Linked DNA regions of Homo sapiens: region 1 is linked to region 2. The links come from fine-mapping of genetic effects on plasma protein levels. A gene starts in region 2. The other region holds a variant in brackets. All regions are shown on one strand. Distances are between the middles of the regions.

What was found. PIP is the chance, under the fine-mapping model, that this variant and not a neighbour inherited with it causes the effect. Sun 2018 read protein levels with aptamers (SomaScan).
Region 1: its variant is fine-mapped to the plasma level of the PRCP protein (Sun 2018, PIP 0.95). The variant lies in the coding sequence of PRCP. If it changes the protein, the assay may bind it differently, which can mimic a change of level.

What each region holds. Positions count from the first base shown.
Region 1 is chr11:82,848,115-82,856,646 of GRCh38, forward strand. It overlaps PRCP (prolylcarboxypeptidase), which reads right to left. Exons shown (of 9, transcript NM_005040.4): 3 at 5,063-5,164; 4 at 2,210-2,391; 5 at 1,800-1,957; 6 at 935-1,104. Among named protein-coding and RNA genes, the nearest start is that of PRCP, 48 kb to the right of the region's middle. The variant T/G (reference allele first, on the strand shown) is at 5,138.
Region 2 is chr11:82,897,502-82,900,717 of GRCh38, forward strand. PRCP (prolylcarboxypeptidase) reads right to left here and starts at 2,929. Exons shown (of 9, transcript NM_005040.4): 1 at 2,734-2,929. The coding sequence starts at 2,901. RefSeq lists enhancers at 2,655-2,704, 2,825-2,884, 3,035-3,134.

The DNA.
Region 1 (8,532 bases), 47 kb before region 2:
TTAAATTAAAAGTGCATTTGAAACCCGGCTCTATATCGCCAATTCTATTTTCACTTCCAACACTCATTCTAGCTGAAGAGTTGGTTATATTCTCTAAATTTAACCATCAAGTTGGCCAGCCTTTGTTTTTAAAACTAAAAGGAAAGCTCTTTACAAAGAAATGCTTAAAATGAACATACACAATAAATAATTTTGACATGAAAAGAACCTTAAAATTTATACTGTAATGTGTCCTTATACTTTCCAAAGTGTTTCACATCCAACATTTTATTAGATCCTCAGCACAACCCTATTTGGTATGTAAGTACTGTTATTCCCTTCTACAGAGGAAGACGGGATGGGGAAAGAAAAGCACCTTGCCTAAGATCACACAGTTGGTAAGTGAAGCAGCAGTTCTGGACCAAAACCTCACTTTCAGAATCTAATTTGATGTTCTTTCCACTCTACTGTGCTGCATGGGGTCACTCTTCACACTGAGGGTAGCACCTACAATGCTTTCGCAGCTGACTAGATCATGGTGCTATGATAATGACTGCCATTTATTAAGCATCAACCATGTATTACATAGATGGAAGTTACACATATATCACAAAGATTAAATACATTATACATGCAAAGTACACAGCCCAGGATTTGGCACATAGTAATTATTCCATTAACAGCAACTTTAGGTATTATTTCTAATTCGTACAACTCTATAATCAATGAATTCTATCTCCATTTTTCAAATGAGGAAACTGAGGCTCAGAAAAGCTAGGTAACATGTCCAAGCCCACATAATCAGAAAGTAGCAGAACCCAGGATTCCAGCTCAAGTTTGACAAACTCTGGAGCCCCTTTGTCACTGGGACTTTCTCTGAGGCAGAAAGTCAGAGTATGCACATTAAAAAAAAAGTGTGTTATTAAAAAATGATGACAGGACATTTTCCTATTACCTTGATAGGCCAAGCAGGCAAAGGCTGTAAAAAGTTAGAGGCATAAGGATAGTCCACCATTGCCAGATTCACCCAGGTTTCAGAGATCCAGTCTTTCAAATGTTGGATGTCCTGAGAAGTTAATGGGCTGCATAAGTGAAGGGCTCCAGTAAGCCACTGCAAACCACTGCCTGGGAATAGAATCACACTGTTGGAATCTAAAAAGTACTGGTCAACAGATGTCTTTACAGATCATTTATTCTTCACATAGTATTTTAGAAAACTCAATCTTTTATACCCCTTCTCCCAGGATATTTTCAGAGCAACTGGAGAATCCCATGACAGACAAGTTGCCTATCCTCATAGAGTTTACCATAATTAGTATTCAGAATTATTCTCCCTTTTTAATATACTATTAAAATGAATAAATAGGAACACTATAGAACAACAAGAATACATAAACTACAACTTAGTAAAACAAATGGATGTATCTATCAAACAGTGCTAAGCAAAAGACAGTAGACACAAAAAAGACATGCTATGTAATTCCAATTACTAAAACATTTAAGAACAAGTAAAAATTAATCTATGGTTCTAGAAGTGAGGATGTTTTTGCTGGGTAGGTATAGAGGTAGTGACTGAAAAGGCACGAGGAGATTTCTGAGATGCTGACAACGCCCTTTACTGATTTAAATGCTAATTATACTGTGTCCTTGCTTTGTGAAAATTCATCAAGCTACGCATTTTGATTTGATTTTGATTTGTATAATTTTCTGTATGTACATTATACTTTAACAAAATGTTTACTTAAAAAGCGACAACTACTGAATTTAACAAATGAAAGGTTAAAAAAACACACAATTCCATTCTCTTAATTAAAGCTTACCAGTATTTGAGAGTCGATTAATGGCATCCCAGGACCTGTGGATGCTCTCTGAACAATGTGGACCGCTTTTCCTAAAATCTGTAGTTACGATCTTCATAAATACACCACAAGGTACTAAATCCTCAAACTGCCAGATAGGGGCAGAAGCTGCAAGAGCTCTAAATGGCAAGAAAATCAAAGAAAGAAAAAAGAAAAGAAAAAATATATATATATATTATATATATGTCATCTAAATCAAGTTTTAAAGTTGAAACATAATAAAAATATTGAGAAAAATAACACAGCTGTTAATGAGACAGAAGCCAGAAACCTCAGGGTAATGGCATGGAACATGTTTTACCCAAAATGAATCTCTAAGTTTCCCTTGATAATCATTAAGAAACGTTCATGTCCAGTACAAATGCACTTACCCAACTACCATATGAGGATATTTCATCCTAAACCAGGCGGCAAGCATGCCACCATAGGAGCCTCCTATGGCAATGACAGGTTGATTTTCAGCTCCTGGGATTGTTCTTTTCAAGTGTTTGATTAACTCTGCAAAATCAGCCAGAGCTTGTTCTGATGTCAGGAAATTCAAGTGTCTGGAATCCTAAAGAAATATAACAAAGAACACGGGTATAAATGTGCACATAACAGCAGCTTAGGAATAGCATGGATCCAGAAGAGAGCCAGTGTCAGATAAGCTTTTCTCTAAATAGAATTTCTAGGCAATTGAGCTAAAATGCCTAGTCAAAGCAATAACTGTGTGGATTCAAACTCATGAAAATGATTTTAAGTTTGTGGAAGAACATAATGTATTTTGTATGCAAGTAGATTGTAGAAACAACAGAAACAAATTGTAGGTAAAATTTAATAGCAAATGTGATCGAATATAAACTAAGCTTAATAGATAACTGTTATAACTTTTGTTTTAAATCTTGGCACATTTAAAATGTCTGCCACACAGGCAAATATAAACTAAATCTAGTGGACAATTGAGGTAAGAATCACCAGTAAAAATAAAACTCACCCTTCTTCATCGGAAAGATTATATATGACCTCGGCCATATCAACAACTGAAACAAAGTAGCCTGCCTATTTTAAACAATTATAAAATTGGAAAGAAAAAAAAACTATTTTCAGGTATTGGAAAACAGGCAACATGAGACATTGATCTTTGAGAAAAGGAAAACTCATAATGTTAAGTTTCATAAACATCCTGCTCTCTACATGAAGACAATTTCCCTACTGCAGAAGGTGAAGCCCAGTGTCCTGCTGAGCTGAGAAGGCTAAGAAGGTCTTTTAAAATATGTCTGCAAATTCTTGACACTCATTCCTTTAAAAGGTGAAGCTTAATTCCACTCCCTTTGAACTTGGATGGGATTTAATGACTTGGTTCTAATGAATAGAATGGGGCAGAAATAATGATATGTGACTACCAAGGTTAGGTCATTAAAAAAACACTGCAGCTTCCACCTTGCTCTCCCGCACTGCCAACTTTGAGGGAAATTAGCTGCCTTGTAATGAACTCAAGTAGACCCTTAACTGCAGCCTCTTGTCAACATCCAGCACCAGTTTTATCTCGTATGTGAGTAATCCTCCATATGAGAGGCTCTCCAGCCCCAGTCAAGACTTCAGATGCCTGCAGCACCAGCTGACATCCTAACCTCATGAGACCCCCTGAAACAGAACCACCTAGCTAAACCACTCCTAATTCTTCACCCATGGAAACTATAAAGTAATAGATGTTTATTGCTGTTTTAAGCCATAAGGTTTGAAGTACATCTTTACTAGACAACGAATACAGCTACATACCTCTATTAGGCTACCCTGTTTGACTTTCATGCTTTGGTCTCACCATCCTGATTTCTTCCATCATCTGGCATATTACTGAATCACATAGATCCCATCTTTCCTATCTCCTATATATGCCACCTACTCCTTTAGCTTTCCCCCCTCTTCCAAGATGTATGCCTTCTTACCTCCTCTCTCCCTGTCTGTCACTATCCTTTACTTCCAGTTTTTATGGCACTCTGTACAGTTGAGTGCATTTTTTTTCTAATCCTTGCATAATATCTATAATATCCTTCATGCTACTGACATATTCTGTGAGCACACAAAGGGAAAGAAGTATATCAAAAAGAGCCCCTGGCTCCATTTTGCTAACACAGTATCATTTATAGAAACCTAGGAGAGGAAGTTATGTTCTATCTACAACAAGCTAACTGCTTCCCAGTGGTTTCAGGACTTGTCAAGTCCCTTAATCAGATATTTACGCAAAATACCAAGCTAAAGAATAGAATTTCCCATACAGCTCAACAAATATCAGCAAATCATCCCACTTTATATTTATAACACAACATTTTTACTTATTTTTACTATTGTATTTATTTATAATATGAGATAGTAAAATATCCTTTTTAAAAATAAAAACTCCTTTCAAAATAGGCAGCCTAGTAAAGGACTGGCCCCAAGTCCTTCTAGCTGAGAGTTCCCAAAAGCATATGTATACACTGATGGTATTAGGAAGCACACAAACATTTTTAATGGAACATTTATTGCTTCATTTTAGTGTAATTTGTAAAGAATAACCAGTACACAGAGCCCTTGGTTAAGATAATGCTAAGTTTAAAAAGTGAGCTGATTAAAGAAAAATATTAGGTAAATAATAGTACACGTGGCAAATTAATATAGCCAAAGTCACAAGTGTAGTAGTACATGAATGACTCAGTTGAAGAAAAAGTGTCCTGGTTTATTAGGTAGAGTCTGTGACAAAGGCCAAAGCTCCTGTGAGAACAGGAAAGGCTGAAAGGGAATCCAAGGGGCCAGTTGGCCTTAATGCATCATACAGCTTATTTGTCCTTATTTTATTGATTTTATTTTATTAAAAACATCTTATCAGATAAATTTGTTATGCTCATTATATTTTTTCCAGTGGCAGGCTCAATAATTTAAGTGTACGATTTATAAAGCGGAATTGTTTACTGATATTTTTGAAATAATAAAAAGCTCCCTGTGCTGTCTCTGCAGCCACAGAGTAAAATTTAACTTTCTGAGGCACACAGAGTTAAAAACTGATTAACATTAAGAATTATAATAAAATGGCTTAAAAAAAACCCTCAGTCTGTTCAAATTGTATCTAAAAAGAAACTATTAAATATAAACTATTGAGCTTTTAGGCATTTCAAATTTAAGTTATCTCACAGTGGGGCATATAATTTAGAAACTATTCTAAATTGAAAAGAAAAAGCTTGTAACTTTTAAGTAAAAAGTATCTTTACCTTGAATGAGTTGTCACCAAAGGGGAGAGACTCTCCATAGTATCGATGTTCAGCAAACACCAACATAGCTTTCAG[T/G]TCCTCAGCCACATCCCACATGAACCCCTAAGAAGAGTTTACAAAATCACAGGATAAAATCAGAATGTGAAAAAAAGTCACTGAACCTTTTGGCAAACCATATGGAATAGATGTTAAGCCAGAACAAAAAGAGCACTCTACAAAGTTGCACAATTTGTGTTTGTTCCACAAATAAATGACATAATTGATGTCTTATTGTTGCATATCAATCTCACACTTTATGAGTGAAACAATTAAAAATAATCCCAGGTTGCTCATCCACTAGTCATCCACGTCTTTTTATCCTGACACTCTAGCCCTAGCATCAACATTATGTCTAAAATGGTCTTCATGTACAAAGAGCCAGTACAAATCCTACTGAAATTATTTTTAAATAAGGACGAGGGCCTCTTCCCTAACTCATTCTATGAAGCTAGCATCATTATGATACAACACCTGGCAGGGACACAATGAAACAAGAAAACTTCGGGCCAATATCCCTGACGAAAATAGATGCAAAAACCCTTAACAAAGCTAGCAAACCAAAATCCAGCAGCATCAAGAAGTTAATTTACCAGAATCATATAGGCTTTATTCCTGGATGCAAGGATGGTTCAACATACACAAATCAATAAACAGAATTCACCACATAAACAGAACTAAAAAATAAAACCACATGATCATCTCAATAGATGCAGAAAATGTATTCGACAAAATTCAACATCCCTTCATGGTAAAAATTCTCAAAAAAGTAGGTATTGAAGGAACATACCGCAACATAATAAAAGCCATCTATGACAAACCCATAGCCAACATCGTACTGAATGGGCAAAAGCTGTAAGCATTCCCCTTGAGAACTAAGACAAGGCAAGCATGCTCTGTCTCAGCACTCTTATCCAACACGGCACTGGAAGTTATAGCCAGTGCAATCAGGCAAGAGAAAGAAATAAAAGGCATCCAAACAGGAAGAGAGGATGTCAAACTGTCTCTTTTCACAAATGATATGATGCTATACCTAGAAACCCCACAGACTCCACCAAAAGACTTCTAGAAGTGACAAAACAACTTCAGTAAAGTTTCATTATCAAATTTAATGTATAAAAATCAGTAGCATGTCTATATACCAATAACAATCAAGCTAACAGCCAAATCAAAAACACAATCCCATTTACAATAGCCACAAAAAGAATGAAATATCCAGGAATACAGCTAACCAAGGAAGTGAATCATCTCTACAATGAGAATTACAAACCACTGCTGAAAGGCATCAGAAACAACACAAAGAAATGGAAAGACATTCCATGTTCATACATAGGAAGAATCAATATTGTTAAAATGGCCATACTCCCCAAAGCAATTTACAGATTCAATACTATTGCTATCAAATTACCAACATCATTTTTCACAGAGTTAGGAAAAAAAAACTATTTTGAAATCCATATAAAACAACAACAAACAAACAAACAAAAAACTTGAATCACCAAAGCAATCCTAAGCAAGAAAAACAAAGCCAGAGGCATCACACTACCTGACTTCAAACTATACTGCAAGGCTACAATAACCAAAACATCAGGTACTGGTACAAAAATAGGCATGCAGACCAATGTAACAGGATAGAGAATCCAAAAATCAAGCCACATGCTTGCAACAACCTGATCTTAAATAAAGTCAACAATAACAAGCAATGGGAAAAGGACTCCGTATTCAATAAATGGTGCTGGGATAACTGGCTAGCCATATGCAGAAGATTGAAACTGGACCCCTTCCTTTCACCATATACAAAAATCAACTCAAAATGGATAAAAGACTTAAATGTAAAACTGAAAACTATAAAAAGCCCAAAAACCCCAGAAGAAAACTGAGGAAATACCATTCTGGACATCAGCCTTGGCAAAGAATTTATGACTAAGTCCCAAAAAGCAATTGCAACAAAAACAAAAGCTGACAAGTGGGACCTAATTAAACTAAAGAGCTTCTGCACAGCAAAAGAAACTATCAACAGAGTAAACAGACCACCTACAGAATGAGAGAAAATATTTGCAAACTATGCATCTGACAAAGGTCTAATATCTAGAATCTATAAGGAACTTAAATTTACAAGAAAAGGGCCGGGCATGGTGGCTCACGCCTGTAATCCCAGCACTTTGGGAGGCTGAGGTGGGCGGATCACAAGGTCAGGAGATCGAGACCATCCTGGCTAACACGGTGAAACCCCGTCTCTACTAAAAATGCAAAAAACTTAGCCGGGCGTGGTGGCGGGCACCTGTAGTCCCAGCTACTCGGGAGACTGAGGCAGTAGAATGGCGTGAACCCGGGAGGCGGAGCTTGCAGCGAGCCCAGATCACGCCACTGCACTCGAGCCTGGGCAACAGAGCGAGACTCTGTTCAAAAAATAATAACAATAAAATAAATAAGTAAATAAATTTACAAGAAAAAACAACCCCATTAAAAAGTGGGCAAAAGACATGAACAGATACTTTTCAAAAGAAGACATACACAAGGCCAACAAACATGAACAAAGGCTCAACATCATTATCATCAGAGAAATGCAAATGAAAACCACAATGAGATACCATCTCATACCAGTTAGGATGGCTATTATTAAAAAACAGTAAAAAAATAACAGATGTTGGTGAGGTTGTGGAGAAAGGGGAATGCTTATAAACTGTTAGTACGATATAAATTAGTTCAGCCACTACGGAAAGCAGTTTGGAGATTTCCCAAAGAACTTGAAATAGAACTACCATTCAACCCACCAATCCTCACTACTGGGTATATACCTAAAGAAAAATAGGCCAGGTGTGGCGGCTCATGCCTGTAATCCCAGCACTTTGGGCGGCCAAGACAGGTTGATTACTTGAGTCCAGGAGTTTGAGACCAGCCTGGGCAACATAGTGAAACCCTTTTCTCTACAAAAAATAAAATTAAAAACTAAATAAAAATTTAAAATAAAAATAAACCATTCTACCAAAAAGACACATGCACTTGTATGTTCATCTTAGCACTGTTTGCAATATCAAAGACACAGAATCAACCTAGATACCCTTCAAGAGTGGACTGGATAAAGACAATGTGGTCTATATACACCATAGAATACTACGTAGCCATTAAAAAGAACAAAATAATATCCTTTGCAGTAACATGGATGTAGCTGGAGGCCATTATCCTAAGTGACCTAATAGAGCAACAGGAAACCAAACACTGCATGTTCTCACTTATAAGCAGGAGCTAAACACTGAATACACATGGACACAAAGAGGGGAACAATAGACACTGCATGACTACTAGAGGGGCTAATAGTGCAGGGAGTGTGGGTGTGGGGCATGAGTTCAACAACTACGTATCAGGTACTATGCTTACTACCTAGGTGATGGGATCATTCATACACCAAATCTGAGCAACACACAATTTACCCA
Region 2 (3,216 bases):
ATTTCCTTAAAGAAGTCAAAGATTCGCAGAAGAGGTGAGACATTTCTGCTGGAATAGAATTATGAGTTTAAATAGTGGGGAAGAGGGATGGTATTCCAGACAGAATTTCTGACACAGTAAAAGTCACTTGAGTCTGTTAGGTTGCTAAAAGTGGGAGCTGGGATGGGGAATTATGGCAGAATATAAAGTTGGAACGACCAGCTAGGGTTACATAGTAAGGAACAATGGATTCCCATGCCAAGGTGTTTGGCCTTTATCCTGCAATCAGAGTTATGAAGAATTTCTAAGCAGGGGAGGGATAAGACCATGGGCTAAGCCTTCTTAGAGACCACTCCATAAAACCACATCCTTTATATACATAGAAGGACAGCTGGGTCCAGCTTGGTCACTGGGGCAGATATAACCACAGGTAAATCATTATAAAGTTTAATAAAAATTAAACCTTGAATAAAAAACTAAGCCTTACAGTTTTAATAATAAGTTTATTACTAGAAGGCATCAAAGTATTTCATGTGCTCTAACTTAAAAACTTAAAGTTGAGTTCACACATAGTCCTAACTAAAAATCAATGGTTCAGAAATTGGCAACTAGTATAATTATAATTATGCAATAAATACATATGTAAAAGTTTTCCTCAGAAAATGAAATAAAACTCAATTGGAATAGACAGAAGAAAAATTATTATTATGGTAATAAATACATACGTGGAATCTGTATCCTAAAATATAAATTAAATATAAGCCAGTGGACAAAATGTGGCTGAGTAAAGCTGGACTTTGCATATCATCAAAAATGGAAAAAGAAACAGTGTTGAATTATATTTCTAAGGAGTGTAGTGGCCAAGAAAAGAATCTACAATAAAGGAACATAAATTAGGAACTAAGGTACTAACAACTCATTTGTTCCCTTCCTCTTTTCTGCTGATAGTTCTCTTTTTCATCAATCCCAATGGGATTTTAGAGATCTCCCAATCCAATAGTCCTCCCCACCGTTTTACTTTAGCAGTTGAGTTCTGCAAATAGTTGTATATAAAATCCCAGCATATAAAACAGGTAAAAGCTGAAAGAGATCCAAGAGAGGGTACTAGAGCACCTAATTTGGCCTCCACTTCAGCCTTCATCCACTTTCCCTCTGAAACAGCTCCCCAAAGAGCCCTTAATTTTCCTCAGTAAAGTGTAAAACACATTGGTCCTTGTCCCAACCCTCCTAATTTACAAATGAGGGAATTATGCCCTAGAGAATTAATTTAAGGGAGTTGCCTGAGAAAAAAGATTATTTCCTAGTACCCCTGCTAAAATTAAAATGTTTTCTCTTCCTCATAAACTTGAACTCAAATGTCTGGGTTAAAAATTGTTTCTTGGCTGGGGACACAGTGGCACACGCCTGCAATCCCAGCCCTTTGGGAGGCCAAGACAGGGGCATCGCTTGAGCCCAGGAGTTCAAGACCAGCCTAGGCAAGATGACAAAATCCCATCTCTATTTTTAAAAATAAAAAAATTTTTAAATTATTTCTAAGTTATTCTGGAAGTCTATGACATCCCTCTACCACAAATTCCCATTCCAAATTCACATAAGGGCTGGGCTCAGTGGCTCACACCTGTAATCCCAACACTTTGGGAGGCTGATGCAGAAGGATTATTGAGCCCACAAGTTCAAGACTAGCCTGGGCAACATAGTGAGCCTTGTCTCTGCACAATTAACAACAACAAAATTTCACATAGGTCTATAACCACATATTATATGAGTGCCTACTTGAAGCCAGATACTCTGCTAAGAGTACGTTATCTGCTCTCATTCAACCATCACCACAAACCCCAAGAGATCAAGGAACTAGGCTCACAGAAGTACTGTAACCTGCCCAAGGTCACAGAGCTAGCAGGGTGGAATCCGGTTCTATCTGACTCCTAAAGCCAAGCTTCAGACCCTTGCACTCTTTCTAATCCCAACCTTTTCCAAATCTTTTCCTATTTTTACACAGGCTTTCAGAAATGCTGAACTGTAAGGATTACTTGTCATTTCACAGAGGATGTACTTTTCCATCAAGACCTGTGGGGGAATGCCTCATGCTGCAGCCAAGCACAAAGGCATCAAGCCCAAAAACCTCTAATTTCACGTTACAGACCATAGAAAGGCTAATCCCCACCCCCACCACAAACTCCTACAACTCCTTTTACAAGCATAGGCTACATACATTCAGTCTTATGGGGAATAGGGACTGTCAACAATTCTTAATAATAGGGCTACAAAATCAGCTCTGAGCTGACCCCTTCTGAGAGGCTGGCTTTTAGGATGGATAACTATCCAATATTTTCTAATAGGTAAAGATATTAAAATTTGTATTTAGGGCTGCCTTGGGGCAAAGGATGACTATCACCGCAGACTAGGTACCAGAGCTGGCATTTAATAATTTGAATTTGAGGGAAGGTCAAGGGAGTTCGGATTGGGGCACCCTCTGGGAGCAGAGGGAGTTGAAGTGACTGTCGTGTCCAATTACAGAAAAGCCTGAATCAAGAGTATGCAGCCAAAACTACTACCAAATTATTGGTAATGGGAGGAGAAAATTTAAACAGAACTGGGATTTGGGACCACCTTCTGGAAGATGTTAGCCAAAAACCGAACAGATCCTAGGCATCAAGGGGTGTGAATTTCGAGGTAGGCTCCGTTGCCCGGGCTCTGAGGGTCAGGGTTCCCGGCGGTTGGGCCTGGGACGGCGAAGCCCCCGCTCCCCCTTACCTTCTGTTGGAAGTAGAGAACCGAATAGTTCTTGGCTACAGCCGGGAGGGATGTGGGGTTGGTTGGCAAGTGTAGGCTGCCGAGGGCCCTTAAGGCCGGCCGGAGGGCTATGGTGGCCCAGGGCGCCAGAAAAGACAGAAGCAGGAGCAGGAGGGCTCGGCGGCCCATGGCTCAGGCTGGAGACTGCAGTGCGGGTGGGAGGGCGAAAAGGAGGCCAGCAGAAGCGCACAGGCTAAGCCCTGCCCAGCCTGCAGCTCCGCCCGCCGCAAAACAGCTCCTCCCAGGGGAAACCCAAAGCCAGCCAGCTCCTCAGAGACGCCGCCCAAGCCAGGTCACCACAGCCACTCCGCCCCCATCCCCGAGGACACCGCCTCCACTCCACTTTCCTCTCGTGCCATCTGCTCCTTAGCACTCACCTTCATTGCGGTCACACCCCAAGTCTGCCCTTATCATGCTAGGGCCTCTTCCTAACTCATCGCTGTA